3 separate regions of the Homo sapiens genome follow, and all the other regions are linked to region 3. Evidence: fine-mapped expression QTL. A gene starts in region 3. Each other region holds a variant in brackets. All regions are shown on one strand. Distances are from middle to middle.

Region 1 (6,833 bases), 25 kb before region 3:
AACAGTGAAGGGGGACCATGTGGAGCAGGTGGAGTGAGCAAGAGGAGTGGGAGGTGAGGGCAGAGAGGGGAGAGGGCCCTGCTGATGACTTCCCGGAGCTGGGTATTTATCCTGAGCAAAAGAGGAAGCCAGTGGAGGGCCCTGAGCAGAGGAGGCTGTGCAGAATCCCTGGCTGTGGTGCCGAGAATGGAGTGAAGGGTGCAAGGCCAAGCAGCGAAGCCTGTCGGGAGGCTGCTGCAGGGACCCGGGGAGGAATGGTGGTAATAGGGGCTTGTGGTGAGGAGGTGTCAGGTTCCGGCCATGTTTGCTGATGAATTGGACACGTGACGTGTGGGAGAGAGAGGGTTCGAGGATTATACAGGGTTTCTTTAGGCCAAGCAGTGGGAGAATGGCCCTCAACTGAGACAGGGGGACTGTAGGTGGAGCTGGCTTTAGGTGCCTGTAGGGTGGAGCTGCAGGGAGGCTGCTGGGTTGCTGAGTGTGGAGGTCAGGAGAGGTCTGGCCTGGTTGTGGAAGGTAAGGGAGCTATGGGTAGTTGAAGTTATCTGAGGCTCTGGGACTGCAGGAGGTCCCCTCAGGAGGGAGACTGTGGGGAGCCCACCGGTGTGAGGAGACTAAGAAGGAGCAGCTAGGGAGGGAGGAGGACGCAGAGGAAGGGGGTCCTGGAGGCCAGTGTGAGGTGGCAGGCAAGGACTGAGGATGGTGACCACACGGAGCAACTGGTGGGCTGTGGCCAGGGCTGCTCCAGTGGGCAGTGAGGGTGAAAACCCAGCGACCGCTCTGTGCTGCACACAGAGACAGGCGCTGTGGCTCTCCCCATTCGCAGCTGTGAAAGCAGGCACAGGGTGGTAGAGGAAGTAGGGGTGCACAGCTAGTAACAGCTGAGCTGGGATTTGAACCCAGACCACCCGACCCCAGAGCACACTTTTTAACCTCTGCACTATCCTGTAATGGAGCCTGAGTGAAAGCATTTTCATCTTAATCATTATTTCTTTTAATGAGTACAGAACATGTAAGTAGTGCATCAAGCCCATGGCTTCACAAACATTATTACTTAGGAGAAAAGAGTAGCTGATTGGAAGAAGATATTAATTGAGACAGATACACACAGAGCAGAAATCACAACTTTAAAATGCAAATGGTAGCTGAGACTCAGGCTGGGGAAGGAGAGTTTTATGTCCTGGGTCAGAACTGGAGTCAGGACCAAGGTCTCCATCATGCCACCTGTCTCTCTAGGAGCCAGCCATCCACTCCTGTGGGTGCTTAGCGTGTCCTAGGTCGAGGTGAGCAGCAAGAAGCCAGGCTGGCTGGGGCAGGCTGGGCCTCAGCTCACAGGCAGGCTGAGGAAGACAGATGGATGCATGAATAAAGCCAAGGAATGGCAGAGACTGGAGGTGTGGAGGATTTGAGAAGAGGGGACACTGTCTTGGAGTACATGGGAGTGGGCCCTGGAGGGGTATTAAGGTGCGATTTGGTTAAGCAGATTGGCAGTCCTGAGAAAGGGACCACACAGGGAGGGACATCAGGTGGTGCATGTAACTTGTGACGAAGACTCTGACTTCCTTGAGCGCTAGCAGGCCTGGGGACGTGCAGGGTGTGGGAGCAGAGTGGCAGGTGGGAGATTTTGGGGCAGAGGCCACCTCATGTGAGTCCTCTGTTAGTCTGCTCATGCTGCCATGACAAAATACCACAGACTGGGTGGCTTAAGCAGCAGATACTCATTTTGTTACAGTTTTGAAGGCCAGATATCCAAGAGTGGGGTGCCGGTTTCTCCCGTGGCCTCTTCGTGACAATCACTGTGCTCACATGGTCTTTCCTCTGCATGTGCACATCCCTGGGATCTCTGTGTGTGTCCTAATCTTCTCTTCTTCTAAGGAGACCAGGCGAATTGGATTAGGGTACACCCTAGCAGCATGTTTTAACTTAATTACCTCTTTAAAGATCTTATCTCCAAACACGGTTATATTCTGAAGTCCTGGGAGTTGGGACTTCCACATATGAACTTTGGGGAGACACATTTCAGTTCATAATATAAGCCTCTGTCATCCCCATAGTTTTCAATGAGTACCAGAGAATGACAGGCCGGGACATTGAGAAGAGCATCTGCCGGGAGATGTCCGGGGACCTGGAGGAGGGCATGCTGGCCGTGGGTAAGTGTCTCAGGTTTGCCGCCCACCTGCCAGGGGCTAACGTGTATCGTGAGTGTTCAGGCTGCTCGCCTGTCCTCCAGCTGATGGGTGACACCGTGAAGGGACCACAGGATCCAAGATCGCTCAGCCCAGAGTGTCCAGATGCTGGGAAGTCATGCTGCTTCCCGGTTCCCTGTGCAGTTGAACCCCTAGCTGTCCTGGAGGTGTCTTGTGTGTGTTTGCGGTGCAGCTCTGGAGTAGGGAACTGCAGTGTGGGTATTAGTGGGAGGGCATCCAACTGCGCTCCCGGAGGAGTATGACTCATATCCTGCCACGTTTCCTCTAAAAATACATCCCTGCAGGCAGTTGTCAGATGTTTGTGATGGAAACACGTGGAAAGATTTTTACTTGCAGCAGCGAAACAGGCCCATGCTGAGGAAAGCTGGCTTGGCTCCAGGATGGTGGTGTGCCTCTTACATTGCCCATGTCCTCTAGCAGGGCCCTCCCACTGTGCAGAGTTGGGTCCCTGCCCTGAGGCCCTCACAACCCCTCTTTCTACTCACTTGGGAAAATCAGTCTGCCCCTTTTTTCATTATGCTTTTTTTGGAGCTTTCTGGATGGGAGAGATGGAAAATCCTCATTTCCCTGCCTGTCCCCCATAGTAGGTCTCATGGCCTGGGAAGCCTAGGGAGATGCACATTCCACTCAGCCACGGTTTCTCCATGACGGTCATGGCCTCTCCAGTCTGCCCCTCCTGCCTGAGCAGCAGCACAGTTCCTCATCACCATCCACATTGCTTCCCTGTGTAGCTCCTAGCCCCACTAAGACCCCCGCCCCTCTGACTCTTGGTCCTTTCACCGCAGTGGTTGCCAGGAAAGAGGGTGGGTTGGTTTCCAGGCTTTGCGTGTTTCTGTTCCAAATAGCTGGAGCCAAGATCATGGGATAGTTGAGCCTGGAACAGAAGGAGGAGGAGAAAAGATGGATGCAGTGATGGGTTTGACATCTGGGCCTCTAAGAGGACACTTGTAGACTCCATGCCCTGCTTGGGCTGAGAATTTTCTGCAGATCTGGTTATGCCGAGTTTCTCTCTTCTAGTGAAATGTCTCAAGAATACCCCAGCCTTCTTTGCGGAGAGGCTCAACAAGGCCATGAGGGTATGTAACTTCCA[T/C]GTGCAGGTTGCGATGGAACCTTAGCCTCGCCTGTGCCTGGGACCAAGGGCTGAGGGCAGAAGGCCTGGGGAGAGCTAAATCTCAGCTGAGAGTTCCGAGGACCTGGGTAGGGAGGGGACTGGAGGGCCCAGGGCAGGTGGGAAGGTGAGGAGGCCTGGTGCTCATGCTCTTGGGTGGACTCTCTTTAGGGGGCAGGAACAAAGGACCGGACCCTGATTCGCATCATGGTGTCTCGCAGCGAGACCGACCTCCTGGACATCAGATCAGAGTATAAGCGGATGTACGGCAAGTCGCTGTACCACGACATCTCGGTACGGGCCTGCTGCAGGCCAACTGGGCTCCCTTTTGGCATCTCAGTCACCTGTGGAACCTCCCTCCTTGGAGTGGCCATATGCTTGGCCTCTGTGCTGTGTGTGGGCATCTTGATTATGGACCTCGGACTTGTTCATCCCCTTGCCCTTAAACAGATTATAAATTTCTGAGGGCAGGTGGATCATGACCTTGCTGTCGCCCCCACCTTGCATCCCCCAGCAGCATCAGAGAACACTCGGGACCTCCCCAACCTTGACCGTGACCTTCAGCGTTCCGATCACCGTGTGATTCCTTGATCTGTCAGTGAGAACTCATGTCCCAAAGGCTCTGTGGAGCTCTGCTGTCACTCCCTGACAAAGCACTTCCTGCACTCAGCTTTATGGCGTAGGCCACATAGTAAGGCCGTTCAGAGCGAGGGCCCTGGGGGTCACGCCACTTGGAGTCCAGCTTTTCTACTTGCTAACTGTGTGACCTTGAATGGCTCCCTTAAATCTCCCTGAACCCCAGCTCCATTGTCTTTAAGATGAGAAAATAATCGTTCCTTCCTGGGAATGTTGTGAGTATTGAGTGAGGCAGTGCAGGTCAAGTGTCTATTAAACACTAGCCACAGTTGTATCGCTGTGTGGCAGAGCCAGTCTGACAAAATACATTCTCAGCTGTGTGGTCTAACGCTCAAATTCTGAACTCACATGAGCCTTGCAATTGCACCATGGGGACCACGTCCTCCCACCTTAGACTCAGTAGCATTTGATGATGGTGGGCATGTCATCACAGGAAACTCACTGTGTTTCCTTGGCTGTATGAATGAAGCTGTTGTTAGAGAATTAGTGATTCTAGGCTGGGCACAGTGGCTCACGCCTGTAATCCCAGCACTTTGGGAGGCTGAGGCAGGTGGATCATTTGAGGTCAGGAGTTCGAGACCAGCCTGGCCAACAAGGTAAAACCCTGTCTCTACTAAAAATACAAAATTAGCTGGGCTTGCCTGTAATCCCAGCTAATTAGGTAGGCTGCGGCAGGAGAATTGCTTGAACCCGGGAGACAGAGGTTGCAGTGAGCTGGGATCACGCCATTCCACTTCAGTCTTGGTGACAGAGTGAGACTTCGTCTCAAAAAAAAAAAGAGAGTTAATAATTCATTACAGAGTATCTCCTGCATGCCAGCAAGCTATGGACATCTGGAAGAAGCCACATGCCTTGCCCTCAAGTTGCTTAGGGTGGAAGGAAATGATTAGAAATGAGCCAAGCCGAGCCTGCACTCTTAGAGTAAGTGTAGTGGCCTCAGACAGAGGAGAGATCCCTGGGACCTGGGCAGTCTGAGCCTTCCACTGGACAGTCATGTGTGAGGAGATTGCATTTCCTGAGCAGGACACTGTGTTGCGTTACATTGGTAACCCCAATTTAAGGCAGCATAAATGCACTGGGAAAACAGCAATATTGGTTAGCCCTGGGAAGTGGTTTTTAGGATGATTATAATTTTTTTTTGTGGGTATTCATTTGATGTGGATAGCTGGGGTGAGTGCTGCTTTCCGTCTTCTGATGGGGGCCTGGAGAAGGCTGAACTGCATTTTTTAAGGTCTGTGACGCCTGCTGCAGGACCTGCAGTGGGAGAAAATTCCCCAGGGTGGGGCTTTCTCCCTATAAGGGTGCTCAGGGCTGAATATCAGGACCCAGAAGGCTGAAAGTGACTGTCCCTCCCTTAACGGATGTCTTCCTTGTTTCTGTGGCCAGGGAGATACTTCAGGGGATTACCGGAAGATTCTGCTGAAGATCTGTGGTGGCAATGACTGAACAGTGACTGGTGGCTCACTTCTGCCCACCTGCCGGCAACACCAGTGCCAGGAAAAGGCCAAAAGAATGTCTGTTTCTAACAAATCCACAAATAGCCCCGAGATTCACCGTCCTAGAGCTTAGGCCTGTCTTCCACCCCTCCTGACCCGTATAGTGTGCCACAGGACCTGGGTCGGTCTAGAACTCTCTCAGGATGCCTTTTCTACCCCATCCCTCACAGCCTCTTGCTGCTAAAATAGATGTTTCATTTTTCTGACTCATGCAATCATTCCCCTTTGCCTGTGGCTAAGACTTGGCTTCATTTCGTCATGTAATTGTATATTTTTATTTGGAGGCATATTTTCTTTTCTTACAGTCATTGCCAGACAGAGGCATACAAGTCTGTTTGCTGCATACACATTTCTGGTGAGGGCGACTGGGTGGGTGAAGCACCGTGTCCTCGCTGAGGAGAGAAAGGGAGGCGTGCCTGAGAAGGTAGCCTGTGCATCTGGTGAGTGTGTCACGAGCTTTGTTACTGCCAAACTCACTCCTTTTTAGAAAAAACAAAAAAAAAGGGCCAGAAAGTCATTCCTTCCATCTTCCTTGCAGAAACCACGAGAACAAAGCCAGTTCCCTGTCAGTGACAGGGCTTCTTGTAATTTGTGGTATGTGCCTTAAACCTGAATGTCTGTAGCCAAAACTTGTTTCCACATTAAGAGTCAGCCAGCTCTGGAATGGTCTGGAAATGTCTTCCTGGTACCAACTTGTTTTCTTCTGCTTGATTCTGCCCTGTGGCTCAGAGGTCTGGCCTTATCAGCCAGTGAAAGTTCATGTAACCTTACGTAGAGATTTGTGTGCAGGAAACCCTGAGCATACACTAGTTTGCAGGGACTCGTAAGGACATGGGAAGGGAGGTTCCCGAAATCCAGGCAGGAGGCCCAGACACCTGAAAGGCAAAGGGATCTTGGTTGGTTGCAGGTGCAGTGAAGTCCACTGAAGGTGTGGTGCGAAGAATGCAGTCCTTCACCCAGGTCCCAGGAGGGAAGAAGGGTGTGTGCTAATTCCTGGTGCCCCTCGGCGGGGGCCAGAGAGAAGGATGGGGACAACCCAGAGAGTCACAAGACCAGTGCCTCCCCTCAGGGTGCCTCCAGGCTGAAAGGGGCTCCTGGCTCTGGTCTCTGGGGACCCTGTGCCCGTTGGTTGGTGGTGTGAGGGAAGAGAATCCATAAGAGAGTTTCTGAGAATTATGGTGTCATGTCCAGAAGCTAGAGCTTACCTTGCATCAGGGGTCTCCACCCACTCCTTTTCCAACCTCCTGCGTTGAGGTTTAGAAAAGAGAGAATCGACTAGGCACTATGGCTCACGCCTGTAATCCAAGGACTTTGGGAAGCTGAGGTGAGAGGATCACTTGAGCTCAGGAGTTCAAGACTAGCCTAGCCAACAGCGAGACCCCTGTC
Region 2 (6,833 bases), 41 kb before region 3:
AGAAGTCTTGCCGAGCCCAGATATGGCAGCCCTGGGGTGCCAGGAACGACTTCTCCAAGGACAGCCCCTTGCGGTAGCCTCTTTTGAAAAAATGCAGAGGTCACAGTTACCAGAAGACTGGACCATGAGCAGATTTCTTAATTTTCAAAGAAAAGGAGGAGAAGAATGCTGCTTCTGTGAGTCAGAGAGCAGTGTGCTAATCCTGCAGCCTCTAGCCTCCTAGAACATGGATAGCTTGGGGGGAGATTGGTCAGCGCTGGGAGCCTGTGTCCACCTGAAGGTCACCCCTGGCTATTGGGCTGCGTTTACTTTTCTCCTGGGGGTAATTAGGCAGATAAACAGGCTCTCTTCAGAGTAAATGTGCTAGAACCCTCACTTGGGCATGTGGAGAAATGTGTACTGGGTGGTGGCAGAGTGAGTTGGGGGAGAGCTGGTTAAATGCCTGCACCCACATGATGCCTAGTGTTTGATGTTGAACTGGGGAGTTCTGAGTATGACAGTTCTGTAGTGTCCCTCGTTGTCCCTTTCGTCTTGGTTACTTGGCAGAACACAAATGCCATGCTTATTGCATCCATGGATGTAAAACAAAGCTGAGAGAGAGGGGGAAGATGTTTGATGTTGAGCAGAATCCCAGAAGGTCTCAGGAGACTGGAGCAATGGGCAGAACCCAGGGGAGAAATTTCACAGGAGCCCACATAAGGTCTCCGTGGCCTGAAAACCCACTTGTACCAGTCCGGGGAGGTAGGGAGTAGCATCCACTGGAGGGAGATGAAGGTCCCGCCCTGCACTCTTCAGACCATACCTGGGGCGTTTGGTCCTGAAAAGAACTAAAAGATAAGAGTGGGGTCAGGCCAGGCATGTAATCCCAGAACTTTGGGAGGCTGAGGCGGGCGGATCATCTGAGGTTGGGAGTTCGAGACCAGCCTGGCCAACATAGTGAAACTCTGTCTCTACTAAAAATACAAAAATCAGCCTGGTGTGGTGGCAGGTGCCTCAGGTGCCTGTAGTCCCAGCTACTTGGGAGGCTAGGGCAGGAGAATTGCTTGCACCGAGGAGGTGGAGGTTGCAGTGAGCTGAGATTGCGCCACTGCACTGCAGCCTGGGTGACACAGTGAGACTCCGTCTCAAAAAAAAAAAAAAAAGTGGGGAGCAGGCTTGAAACTATTTCAGGCAGAGAATGACAGAGGGAAAAATGAGGCTATTCTTTCTAAGAACGGAGGACTAGAGGTATATCTTGGGGAGAGGGGAAGACCCAGGGTCGCAGGACCACAGCTCACAGTGGGGTCGACCTGCCCTGTGGGGCCATGCAGGGCAGAGCTCCTAGCCAGGAGGCAGATTTTGACTCCTGCTGGGAACTCCCTTAAAAGCCACCCCAAGAATGAGCTCCACGAGCGCCATCAAGGCTGGCCTGCAGGCCCTCCAGGGTTACCAAGGCTGCCTGGAACTGAATGGACCCTGTGTGTGTTCTTTTAGTCTTGGAAGACCAGCCAGGACTTTGGGGGCCAGACGGCTAGCCTCAAGTGAGCTCAGAAATCTGCACCTGAATTGGGCCTTTTTAAAAGTTGTTTAATGGCCAATACATACATGCAGCAGAAATGCACAGGGAACAGATCTAAACCGGAAGCCTCATTTTCTAGCCCCACCTTTCCTCTCGAGAGGCAGCTAGTGTTAGCTAGTTTCTTGTGTGTCATTCCAAGGATGTCCGTGCACGTCTACACTCAGGAACCACTTAGTTTGTATGTTTCTGGGTTTTTTATTAGCTTAGTACATACACAGTACTGCACCTTGATTAATAATGGTGGTCATTGCATCTTTCCATATACAGAGCTGGCTAAATCCAGAAATAGCTACAGAGTATCCATTGTTGGATCTGTTGTGGTTTATTTAACCAGCCTCATTGGTGGAGGTTTAGGAGTTGTTGCAGATAAGGCTGTAGTAAAATTCATGTCTGTATGACATTTCACACAGGTGTGTGTCTGGGGAAGAGACTTACAGAAGTGGAGTTGCTGAGTCAAAGGTATGTCATTTTAAGTTTTGATATCTTTGTATTTTATTTATTTATTTATTTTGGAGACGGAGTCTCGCTCTGTCACCCAGGCTGGAGTGCAGTGGCATAATCTTGGCTCACTGCAACTTCCGCCTCCCAGGTTCCAGCCATTCTCCTGCCTCAGCCTCCCGAGTAGCTGGTATTACAGGCACCCACCACCACGCCTGGCTAATTTTTGTATTTTTAGTAGAGACAGTGTTTCACCATGGCCAGGCTGGTCTCGAACTCCTGACCTCAGGTGATCTGCCCACCTCGGCCTCCCAAAGTGCTGGGATTACAGGCATGAGCCACTGCGCCCAGCCGACATCTGTGTATTTTTAATTGGTGATTTCCTCAGCACATTGGTGAAGGTGAGCATCTTCAGCTCCTTTTCTGTAACTGCCAGATCTGTTCACATCATTTGACAGTTTCTCTAGTGGTTATTGATCTTTTTCTTATTATATTAATAAAACTTTTTTCCTAAGTTTTTTTCTCATCTTTATTTTTTTTTAATTTGTCTCTTATGCTGAAATTTTATTTATGTCGTTGGTTTTTGGGGCTACTTCTTTCACTGCATTATTTGGCCTGGCTGGAATTTACTTGGTATAAGGAACAGGGTGGTATCCAGCTTCTGTTTCTTGGGTTTTTTCCCTGGCCTGGCTGTGGATGGAGCTTTTGGCTTCATTTCTCTGAGAGGAGGCCAGGAGTGGAGAGTGTCTTTGGTGCTCAAAGGTCCTGCCTAGTGGTGTCTCCAGAGAGGAAGGTGACAGAGACACCATCCCGGCTCTTCCTGCTCACCTGTCGGGCAGTTCCTTCTATTAGAAGGTTCCTGGCCTACTGGTCATTTACATCCCCCAGATTACCTCCTCACCAGTGAAGTCTGAGGGTTTGGCAGAGTCTGGGCAGAAGGGTCAGGCTGGGGCCGGGACGGGGAGGGCTTTGTACTGACAGCCCACCCAGCCTCAGGGACACCCTCTCTGAAGGTGATGCCACCGGGGACCTCATCCACCACGTGCTTAGGGGCTCAGAGAGACCGAAAACTGCAAGGAGTAGGTCCTTGGTCCACACTACAGGGAGCCAATTCCAGCTTTCTCCAAAGCCATAGGGCTTTGCCTACGGTCACCTCTGGACCCACTGACCCAAACAAATGACTACACCCGTAGGGCTGAAAACCAGGCCCACCCTATGGGGACCGGTGGTACCTTAAGGAAGTTCTTTAGCTTCCTTAAAAACAGCATGTAGGCTGGGCACAGTGGCTCATGCCTGTAATCCCAGCACTGTGGGAGGCCGCAGCGGGCAGATCACTTGAGGCCAGGAGTTCAGACCAGCCTGGCCAACATGGCGAAACTCCATCTCTACTAAAAATACAAAAATTAGCCAGGGATGGTTGCGCCCTCCTGTTGGAGGCTGAGGCACAAGAATCCCTTGATCCCAGGAGGCGGAGGTTACAGTGAGCTGAGCTCGCACCACTGCACTCCAGCCTGGGTGATAGAGTGAGACGCTGTTTAAAAAATAAAAGTAGGCCAGGCATGGTGGCTCATGCCTGTAATCTTAACACTTTGGGAAGCCGAGGCAGGCAGATCACCTGAGGTCAGGAGTTCGAGACCAGCCTGGCCAACATGGTGAAACCCTGTCTCTGCTAAAAATACAAAAATTAGCCAGACATGATGGCGGGCGCCTGTAATCCTAGCTACTTGGGAGGCTGAGGCAGGAGAATCACTTGAACCCAGGAGGCAGAGGTTGCAGTGAGCCGAGATCACACCATTGCACTCCAGCCTGGGTTACAGAGTGAGACCCTGTCTCAAAAAAATAAAAATAAATAATAAAAAAACTTAAAAAGAACAGCATATACCAGCCTCGGCAACATAGTAAGACTCTCAAAAAAAAAAATTAGCTGTGTGTGGTGGCACATGTCTTTAGGAGGCTGAGGCGGGAGGATTACCTGAGCCCAGGAGGTCCAGGCTGCAGTGAGCCATGATTGTGCCAGTGCACTCCAGTCTGGGTGACAGAGCGAGACCCTGTCTCAAACAAACAAAACCCAATATGCCCAGTTCTTCAAGATAGATATGAAGGGCAGCTAGACTCTTATAGTTGGATAGCGTGGCTAGAACAGTGGTCTTCAAAGTGAGTTCCCTGGACCAGTAACATCATCTGGAAACTTGTTCCAAATGCAAAAACTGGTTCCACTGTCTCAGAAACTCTTGGTGGTGGAGCCCAGCAATGTGTTTTAACAATCCCATCAGGTGATTCTGATATGCATTGCAGCGTGAAACCCAGTGTGTAAAAAGAAGCCACATACTCGAGACGAGCAGGTGTGATTGTTGAGGGACCCTGCAGGTTTCCTCACATGTCCGCCTGCCATTGGGTGTCTCTGCAGACTGCAGCAGCAGCTGCTATTAGCAAGAGCAGGCAGGTTGCACAATGTGGCTGGTGTCACAGCAGATCTGTGTCCCTCCTCACAATTTAACTGGCAGGGGACATTGCCAAGGGATCCGTGTTCAGAGGGACTTCGTGAGAGCAGGTGTCTCACCTGGCACCTGTCCAGGC[T/C]GCTCTTCCTCCCTTACTGACAGATCTGCAAATCACTTACTTCTCTTAATCAGCAGCCTCTACTGCAGAAACAGGGTGATGCTGCCTCATTTGCCCTGGTTCTTCACCCTGCATCAGATGAACCTCCTGAGGGCCCTTTTTGCTTCTAGGAACGATGATTCCATACCTTACCAGGTCCCCTTGCCTGATGAACCAGAGGTTGGAGAATGAAGAGAGACAGGGGCCTCTGACTTCCCCTGTTGCTGGAGGGATGGCAATAAGGACACAGGAAGATAAATAGACAGACCTGGAGTCCTGAGAATGAGGCAGTGCGTCTCTACCTCTGAGGTGGGAGAACAGGCCCAGAGGCGCACTGCACCCTTGCCAGCAGAGGCAGGAGCAAAGCTTCAGTGAGAGGGCCTTTCAAGGAAACTGGCTCATGGGGAGTGAATCCTGTCACTGTGGGTGGGGCCGGGGGTGTGGCCCTGGCCCAGAAGTCAGGCAGCATGCTGGTGGGTACTGTTTCTAGCTGGAGGCACCAGCAGGAGACAGTGAACTGGTCTGCGACAAGCAGGGCAGATGCAGCAGTTTCTTCTGCAGGGTCCCAGTTGTGGTGGTGGCTGCCCTTTCAAGAAGCTGGGTCCCACGGGCCAGCAGGGGCTCTCAGGCAGAGCCTGAATGTGCTTTCGTCTTCTCTTCCAGATCTAACCATGAGCTACCCTGGCTATCCCCCGCCCCCAGGTGGCTACCCACCAGCTGCACCAGGTAAGAGGGTCTGGGGTGGGGAGGAGAGTGAATGCTGCCTCTGTACAGTGGCTGGGAGTGGAGAGGGGAGAACAGTAGTTTCCTCACTCCCCTCCTCCCCTCACAGCACGGCCCAGCAGGGGAGGAGAGGACAACAGGAGTAGTGGGACAGCCAGCCGAGGCAGGGGCTGGAGAAGAGCATGACACTAAGGCCATCGGAGGCCTAGGTTTGAAACTGCCTCCAGAAAGCCCTGGACCAGGCCCAGGGCTGGGTCTCTTGCCTTACTCTCTAGTAACAGTGGGCAAATGCTGTCACTTTGAGACTCAGTTTTCTTCTCCGCAAAATTGCTTCAAGGATTTCTCCCTCATTAGGTGGTCCTGGATACTGATGAGATAGGCAGGCAGAGCGACACGGTGTCCTCCAAAGCATTGCTAGGTGATGGTTGCCCCTTACCACCTCTCCTACCCTCTGCTCAAGGTGTGTGGGTTTGCAGCAACAAGATCCCCCTTGCCAAGAGAGGAAGTGGAGGCAGATGCTAAGGGTCAAAGGTCACTCCCTGTTTTCTGCAGGAGCTGTGGGTAGTCACATGGAGAAGTCGTCTTCTCTGGCCCTGGCCCCTTTTGGTCCTCAAATGAGATTTGGTCCCCACTGTGGGAAAGGAAATATGAGGGCTCATGAGACCAAGGGGAGAAAAGGGTCATTCCAAGGCTGGTCATCCTGAGGGTGCCTGAGCCGCTGCCCCTCTCCCCAGGGGACTCCTAGGCATCATTGATTTCTTTGGAGCTGAGGTCCTGTGGTTTGAACACCCCAGACCTGCAGGCCATTTACCTTCCCTCCCATTCAGCAGGTGAAGAACAGACTCAGACCTAGAGGTGGCTCAGCTGCTGTCCCAGGGCATGTTAGGGGCTGAGCTGGGCCACTGCCCTCTGAATGAGCCCACCCCAGGTTGGCTGGCACTGGCCTGGGTTCTCTCTCTATAGTAGAAATCCTGCCATCCAGATCCTGCCACTGCCACCTTTGCTAGCACAGCTGAGCAGCCTCTGAGCAGCAAGAGAGGAGGAGGCAGGAAATTTAGGGAAGGTTCTTCCTGGAGGGTCTGGAGCCCTGGAGATGAAGAGCCGATCCGAAGCTGCCATGTAGAGGAAAGCATCTAACAGGCCAGAGGCCCCATGATGATGTCGAATGCCCATCGGGCACCCAGCTGAGCCCTGCAGGTGTTAACTCAGTCTTCGTCACAGCAGTCTAGGCATACACTCACCATTAGCCCATTTGTAAGCTGAGGAAACAAGCCTAAGGAGGGTGAAAGCCTTGCCCCAGGGCACATACCGGTCCTGCTGGTTTCAGAGCGGGCTTTTCACCTCTGTTTCTTCCTGTCCTCTTGTGGACTGGTATCTGTGTTTACCATGACCCAGCCCCATGTCCCTCCAGCCTCTTATCCTGCTTCTCCCTGCCTTTTACAGACTTGTAATAGCAAACAGCCAAACCCCCTCCCGCCAGTGCCTTCGCATTACTGAAATCTCAGAGCTCCCTATGGTC
Region 3 (6,833 bases):
AAATTAGCCAGGATTGGTGGTATATACTTGTAGTCTCAGGTATTTGGAAAGCTGAGGCGGGAGAATCGCTTGAGCCCAGGAGTTTGAGACTACAGTCAGCTACGATTGCACCACTGCACTGCAGCCAGGGTGACAGTGAAAGACTGTGTCTTGTAAGAAAATAAATAAATGAATAAAAAATAGTAGACACGCACATGCACCACAGGGCTGTCAGTGGCTCAGACAAGGGGAGTGGAAAAGACTGAAGGATTATGATGATTAACCCTGAGCAGCCAAGGCTGTGGCTCCTCAGGGCTCCCTTCCTTCCTTTCCTCCCGCTCTCCCAGGCCCTGCCAGTTGGGAAATGGACCTCCTTGGATGCTGCGTTGTTTTCTCTGGCCCGGCTCCTGCTAGGGGCCTGATGTGCACCCTGGATGGTGGCCATGGGTGGGGCATCCTGTGCTGGTGAGAACACGCTGCTGTGGAGCCCGGAGGCCCCAGAGGAGGGCTCGGCTGGGCTGGCTGCCCCAGTTAAAGAGACGTGGCCCCTGGGTCCCATCCTCTGAGGCGGAAGTACGGGTGCTTCTACTTACAGGCCTTATGGGGAGACCTTTTGTATCTGGACCCAAACAGTAAGAAAGGGCCACAACACAGATGATTTCTGCATGCTGGGGGTTGAGAAATGTTTTCTCAGTGGCATCTGAAAGGTGCCGCTGTATCTTCTGAATTGTCAAAGTCACACTCTGCTTTGAAAAGCAACCCTGGCCACTTGGGGGTTAATTATATTTGACCACATTCAACATAATAGAATAATAAATTTACCACATCCAATATTTGTATTAAAATGTATGATTCACTCAAAACCATCCACGGGTTTTGATCATTTTTGAAAGCAGCAGAAAACTATTCTTCAAGTGATTTTATAAAAAACTCCAAAATATGGGCCGGGCGTGGTGGCTCATGGTCTAAAAAGCCATCAGGGATAAAGGTTTCTCTGAGTGCTGCTAAAAGAAACCAAGACTTGGGCCCAGCGCGGTGGCTCATGCCTGTAATCCCAGCACTTTGGGAGGCCGGGGCAGGCTGATCACTTGATGTCAGGAGTTTGAGACCAGCCTAGCCAACATGGTGAAACTCCCCCGCAGCCCCCGTCTCTACTAAAAAATGCAAAAATTAGCTGGGTGTGGTGGTGCACACCTGTAATCCCAGCTACTTGGGAGACTGAGGCACGAGAATTGCTTGAACCCAGGAGGCAGAGGTTGTGATGAGCTGAGATCGCACCACTGCACTCCAGCCTGGATGACAAAACAAGACTCTGTCTCAAAAAAAAAAAAAAAAAAAAAAGGCCGGGCGCAGTGGCTCACACCTGTAATCCCAGCACTTTGGGAGGCCGAGGCGGGCAAATCACAAGGTCAGGAGATCGAGACCATCCTGGCTAACACAGTGAAACCTCATGTCTACTAAAAATACAAAAAAAATTTAGCCGGGCATGGTTGCAGCCGTCCGTAGTCCCAGCTGCTTGGGAGGCTGAGGCAGGAGAATGGTGTGAACCCGGGAGGCGGAGCTTGCAGTGAGCGGAGATCGCACCACTGCACTCCAGCCTGGGAGACAGAGCGAGACTCCATCTCAAATAAATAAATAAATAAATAAACAAACAAACAAACCAAGGTTGGAAGTTGGACGTGCTAGAGATAGCTCTCAATTTATAGAAAATATAAGGGGTGGAGGTATTTAAATGACATAAAAGGGATGCAATTAGCAAAATCTAAATGTGGAAAACTTTACAGGACAAACTTAGTTTCTTCAACAAAAACAAAAAATTAAGTAAAAAAAGGGGAGAGAAGACTTACATATTTAAAGAGATCTAACAGACATATTGACCAAATGCAGTGTATGTAACCTTATTTGGATCAAACAAATGAATTGCAAAAAGATATGACACAATCAATCAAGGACATTTGAACAGTGATTGAATATTTAATGATATTCAATCACACACAGTTTTTGGAGTATGATCATAGCATTGCAGTTATGTTTATTAAGAGTGCTTATCTCTTAGAGGTACACAAAGAAATATTTATAGATGAAAATACATGATGCCAGGCCAGGCATTGTGGCTCACACCTGTAATCCCAGCACTTTGGGAGGCCAAGGCAGGTGGATCACTTGAGCCCAGGAGTTCGAGACCAGCCTGGCCAACATGGTGAAACCCTATCTCTACTAAAAATACCAAAATTAGTCAGGTGTGGTGGTGCGTGCCTGTAGTCCCAGCTACTCAGGAGGCTGAGGCAGGAGAATCAGTTGAACCCGGGAGACGGAGGTTGCAGTGAGCTGAGATTGTGCCACTGCATTCTAGCATGGGTGACAGAATGAAATCCTGTCTCAAAAAAAAAAAAAAAAGAAAGAAAGAAAGAAAGAAAATATACAATGCCTGGATTTCCTTTAAAATAATCCAGGGAGGGGAGAGAGGGTGGAGGCTATAGATGAGATAAAACTGCCCATGAACTGATACTTCTTGAAGCAGCGTTGATAAGTATATTACATGATTCTTTCACATACTATTACTTTGTATTTTTTTGTATCCAAAAGTTTTCATAATCAAAAGTTAAGATATATCATCTAAAATCTGAAAGATTATGCACAAAAATATATGAAATCAGTGTGAAATTACACTAATACATGAATACTTTCCTCCTTTCCTTCTTCTTTTTTTTTTTTTTTTGAAACTGAGTCTTGCTCTGTCACCCAGGCTGGATTGCGGTGGCTTGATCTCGGCTCACTGCAACCTCCGCCTCCCAGGTTCAAGTGATTCTCCTGCCTCAGCCTGCCGAGTAGCTGGGACTACAGGCATGTGCCACCACGCCCGATTAATTTTTTGTATTTTTAATAGAGACAGCATTTCACCATGTTAGCGAGGCTGGTCTTGATCTCCTGAGCTTGTGATCCGCCCGCCTGAGGGGTAGGTGAGGGGAAGAAAGCGGACAGTGAAAAGCAAGGAACCCAGCTAATGGAGTACCCAGACAGCCTCTCTCCTCCGCACAGCTCTCCACCTCCACCCAGTCCCCCATCTCCACCCAACATAGCTCAGTTTCCCAGAGAAGCTCCCTGGAAACCGGGAGGCTGACTTCTTCACTGACTGCAGATCCACCTGAGGCCACCTGGCAGGTGAATCGGTGGCCTTTCTCCTGGGCCCGACTGCCTGGTTCCTTAAGGCTGTGCTGGGCTAGCCTGGGTCACTCATCCTTTGGAGTGTGGCTTCTTATGCAATGTCCTATAAAGCCAGGCCTGAGCCTCCACAGGCCCTCTGAGATGGAGCTGGCCTCCGGGGCTGCCCCACCCAGCAGCTGTGACCTCCCACTCCAGATCCTGGCTCCTTCTCTCTTGCCAGCTCTACTCCGGGCATCGAGCTTCCCTCTCTCTCCTTTTTGGTCTCTCTCAAATCTTTCTCTTTTCTTCAATATCCTCTCTCCCTCCACCCCTTGCCATTTTAATCACTTTTTCTCTTTCCTTCTTCTCTTTTGTCTCTCAAACTCCTTTTTCTTTCTATCTTAGTTCATATCTGTTCAGGGGAAGCCTCTTTCTGTCTCAGCCTCTCCTTTTTCCTTTTCACTGTGTATTCTTCCCTATCTCCTTTATCTCTCCGTTGCTCTACTTCTCTGCCTTTTTCTGAGTCTGTTTCCTCTCAATCTTTCTCTCCATCCCTCCCTCCCTGCATCTGCCTCTCTGTCCATCTCGCTGCTGTGTCCAGCTCTCTCTCCGTCTCTCTCGCTCATTCCTTCCTCGCCATCTGCGGGTCTCCCCGGCTCCAGGTCCCCTGCCGCGCCCTGCGCCCCACTCACCGGCCAAAGAGCCCGCGGCGCGGAGCAGGGCCAGTCCGGTCAGCGCGCAGAGCAGGGGCCGCATGGTGCCGGCCTGGCCGAGCGCAGCGCCGCGTCTGCCCGCAGCCGCCCTTCCCGGATCGCACCCGGCCGGCCCGAGAGGAAATGCACTCAGTTCGAGCCAAAATTCCTGGGCGGCTCCGGACTTTCTGGCTCGAGAGAACCCGCCCCCTCCAGAGGCCCCTCGGCACCCCGTGGGCAGCGCGGAGCCCAGAGACCCCGGGAGCTGAGGCACCGACGTGCCACCTGGGCGCCTCCCGAGGAAGGGGCCGCCCCCCGAGTCCCCGCACCTCCTGGGAGCCCGGGAGGGAAGGCGGGGCGGGGGGCATTGGGTGAGGTCTTGGGCTCAAGGCGACCGAGCCTGGGGTCAGGGGTTTGTTACGAGCCAGTTTCACAGGCGGGCAGACTAAGACTCGGAGGGAAGTGTCTTCCTCGGCATCACTCTCAGCCATAGCACAGGATCTGAACCCCTGTCTCCTGGGAGTTTGGCAGCTTTTCTCTGTCTACCTACGAACAAGAAATTAATTCTAATTACATGGAACAGTGTCTGCCCCTAAGAGGGAGACCCAGAAACTCACTGCTCTGGTAAGGGAGTGATAGAAATATGAAAAGGTAATTTTAAAAAGAAAAGGTAAAATCGTAACTCTCGCAAAGATATGAAATTAGCATATACTAAAGATTTTATTCAATTCATTATTAATGAGGGGATAAGTAAGATGGTACAAGCAGCCCAAAGTTTAGAGCACAGTAGTGGAAACTTCCCCTATGGGACATGCCCATCCAACAAGTGCAACAACAAATTAAGTTTTAGTAAAAACACAAAGCAAAAAAGCTGTAGCTCTAACTTCTCTGCTGCAGAGCCCTGAGTGAGTGTCTCGTCTGGCTGTAAGTGGAACACATTCATCACCAAGCCTGGGAGAATGCCTTTGTCCATCAAGGGTCCCCGTTGGGATTACCTGGAGCTCTTGCAGATCAAGGCTGCCTCTCTGCCTTCTGTGTTCCTGGCTGTGGCTATGCAATTGTCCAAAACAGTTACCACGCTAACCAGTGATCCAGTTCTCACTCCCTCCTCCAGAGCAAGATAGTAGCCTCAGACGGAGAAATTCTGGTTCTGAGCCCGAGAATCTGAGACAGACTCAGATCTAAATCTTTTAAAAGCCTTCAAGGAGATTATGATGCCCACATGAGCTGGCTCAGAAGAAGAATTTATTTCAGGAATGCCAAAAATTTCTCACGCTTGGTGGTAGGACATTCCTTGATAGTTTCGCCAGGTGGGAAAAAAAGTTGTCAAAGAACTGCCCAACTCATAAGGATTCTTGTAGCTTAGAGCCAGTGGGCTACCTTATATTTTGAATTTAAGACTAAGAAAACACACACACACACAAAAACATATACAATACATTATTGTTGCGGTAGAGCATAAAGTAATTAAGTATACAGAGTAAAACATGAAAGTCTTTTCTGTTACGAATTCCCTCCGTCCAATGATTCAGGTCCAGTCCCCTCAACTTGGTAGGCTCTGCCTGTTCCACGTCTATGCATTCCCCATCTACCTAATGTATATTCAGACACAAATGTATATACATGAGATCAAGTCATAGATATTTTGAAGATTTGCTTTCATTCATGTTTATCTCAGTCATAACATTAAATCTTGGCTGGGTGCAGTGGCTCACGCCTGTAATCCCAGCACTTTGGTAGGCCGAGGTGGGTGGATCACCTGAGGCCAGGAGTTTGAGACCAACCTGGCCAACGTGGTGAAACTCCGTCTCTGCTAAAAATACAAAAAATTAGCAGGGCGTGGTGTTGGGCGCCTGTAGTCCCAGCTACTCAGGAGGCTGAGGCAGGAGAATCAGAACCCAGGAGGCGGAAGTGGCAGTGAGCCAAGATTGCACCACTGCACTCCAGCCTGGGCAACAGAGCAAGACTCCATCTTAAAATAAAAGAAAATAATCTTGGAGATCAGTCTATGTGGGTACAGATAAATCCACTTCATTCCTTTTAAGAGTTAAAATATCCCATGAATGGATACAAGGAGCATTATTTATCCAAACAGTCCCCTATTGACAGACATGTAGATTGCTTCCTTTTTCTCTCCAATATAAAATAAGCTTTAATAAACATTCCTTTGCATATATCTTCATGTACGTAGTACATATTCCTGTATGTACATATTTCTGAAAGGCTGGAAGAGGAATCATTGCGTCAAAGGCCTTTTACATTTTGCCAGATAGGCCAAAAACTGTTCCCCAAATTGTTACTAAGCCCACAGGAGGGGCAAGGGGTCTTCCAGCGCTGTTCCAAGGTGCACCTGAGCATGTTAGTCTAGGTAGGAATTGGGCTGCAGGGGGCGCCATTTACATAAAATACTTCTGCGCTGGGCGCGGCGGCTCACGCCTGTAATCCCAGCACTTTGGGAGGCCGAGGCGGGTGGATCACGAGGTCAGGAGATTGAGACCATCCTGGCTAACATGGTGAAACCCCGTCTCTACTAAAAACACAAAAAATTAGCCGGGCGTGGTGGCGGGCGCCTGTAGTCCCAACTACTCGGGAGGCTGAGGCAGGAGAATGGCATGAACCCGGGAGGCGGAGCTTGCCGTGAGCCGAGATTGCGCCACTGCACTCCTGCAGTGTCACCCACTGCACTGGGTGACAGAGTGAGACTCCGTCTCAAAAACAAAACAGAACAAAAAAACAAAAAAAACCCTTCTGGATTGGAGATACCTGAAGTGTAAACCTATCAGTCACCTACATTCTCCAACACTGGATATTTATTATTTAAAATTTTGACAGCTTGATGATGGAAAATGTTACCTTGTTGTTATTGTTATTTACATGCTACTTGTTATGAGTGAGGTTAAGCTTTATTTGCTTCTTCGATTACTTTTTTCTATTTTCCTCCCTTTCCTTTATATACTCTGATTATTAATGCAATGCCTGTTATATATGTTGGCAATGTCTTCTTCCAGCCTTCCATTA

Which allele goes with the higher level. Positions count from the first base shown, and alleles are read on the strand shown. Sizes are in standard deviations (SD) of each study's normalised expression.
With allele C in place of T in region 1, the expression in pancreas of the gene that starts at base 3,912 in region 3 is higher (moderate effect, 0.47 SD a copy in GTEx).
For the expression in prefrontal cortex of the gene that starts at base 3,912 in region 3, allele T in region 2 goes with a higher level than allele C (moderate effect, 0.59 SD a copy in GTEx).

The links.
Region 1: its variant is fine-mapped to the expression of PLAC9 in pancreas (GTEx, PIP 0.98).
Region 2: its variant is fine-mapped to the expression of PLAC9 in prefrontal cortex (GTEx, PIP 0.98).

What each region holds. Positions count from the first base shown.
Region 1 is chr10:80,154,417-80,161,249 of GRCh38, reverse strand. ANXA11 (annexin A11) reads left to right here. Exons shown (of 16, transcript NM_145868.2): 13 at 2,055-2,150; 14 at 3,225-3,283; 15 at 3,487-3,609; 16 at 5,338-6,833. The coding sequence ends at 5,397. Among named protein-coding and RNA genes, the nearest start is that of PLAC9, 25 kb to the right of the region's middle. RefSeq lists enhancers at 2,230-2,771, 1,869-3,068. The variant T/C (reference allele first, on the strand shown) is at 3,298.
Region 2 is chr10:80,171,291-80,178,123 of GRCh38, reverse strand. ANXA11 (annexin A11) reads left to right here. Exons shown (of 16, transcript NM_145868.2): 2 at 1,969-2,017; 3 at 5,255-5,317. The coding sequence starts at 5,263. Among named protein-coding and RNA genes, the nearest start is that of ANXA11, 31 kb to the left of the region's middle. RefSeq lists enhancers at 1-180, 700-1,199, 1,200-1,701, 5,823-6,748. The variant T/C (reference allele first, on the strand shown) is at 4,574.
Region 3 is chr10:80,129,809-80,136,641 of GRCh38, reverse strand. It overlaps PLAC9 (placenta associated 9), which reads right to left and starts at 3,912. Exons shown (of 4, transcript NM_001012973.3): 1 at 3,816-3,912. The coding sequence starts at 3,879.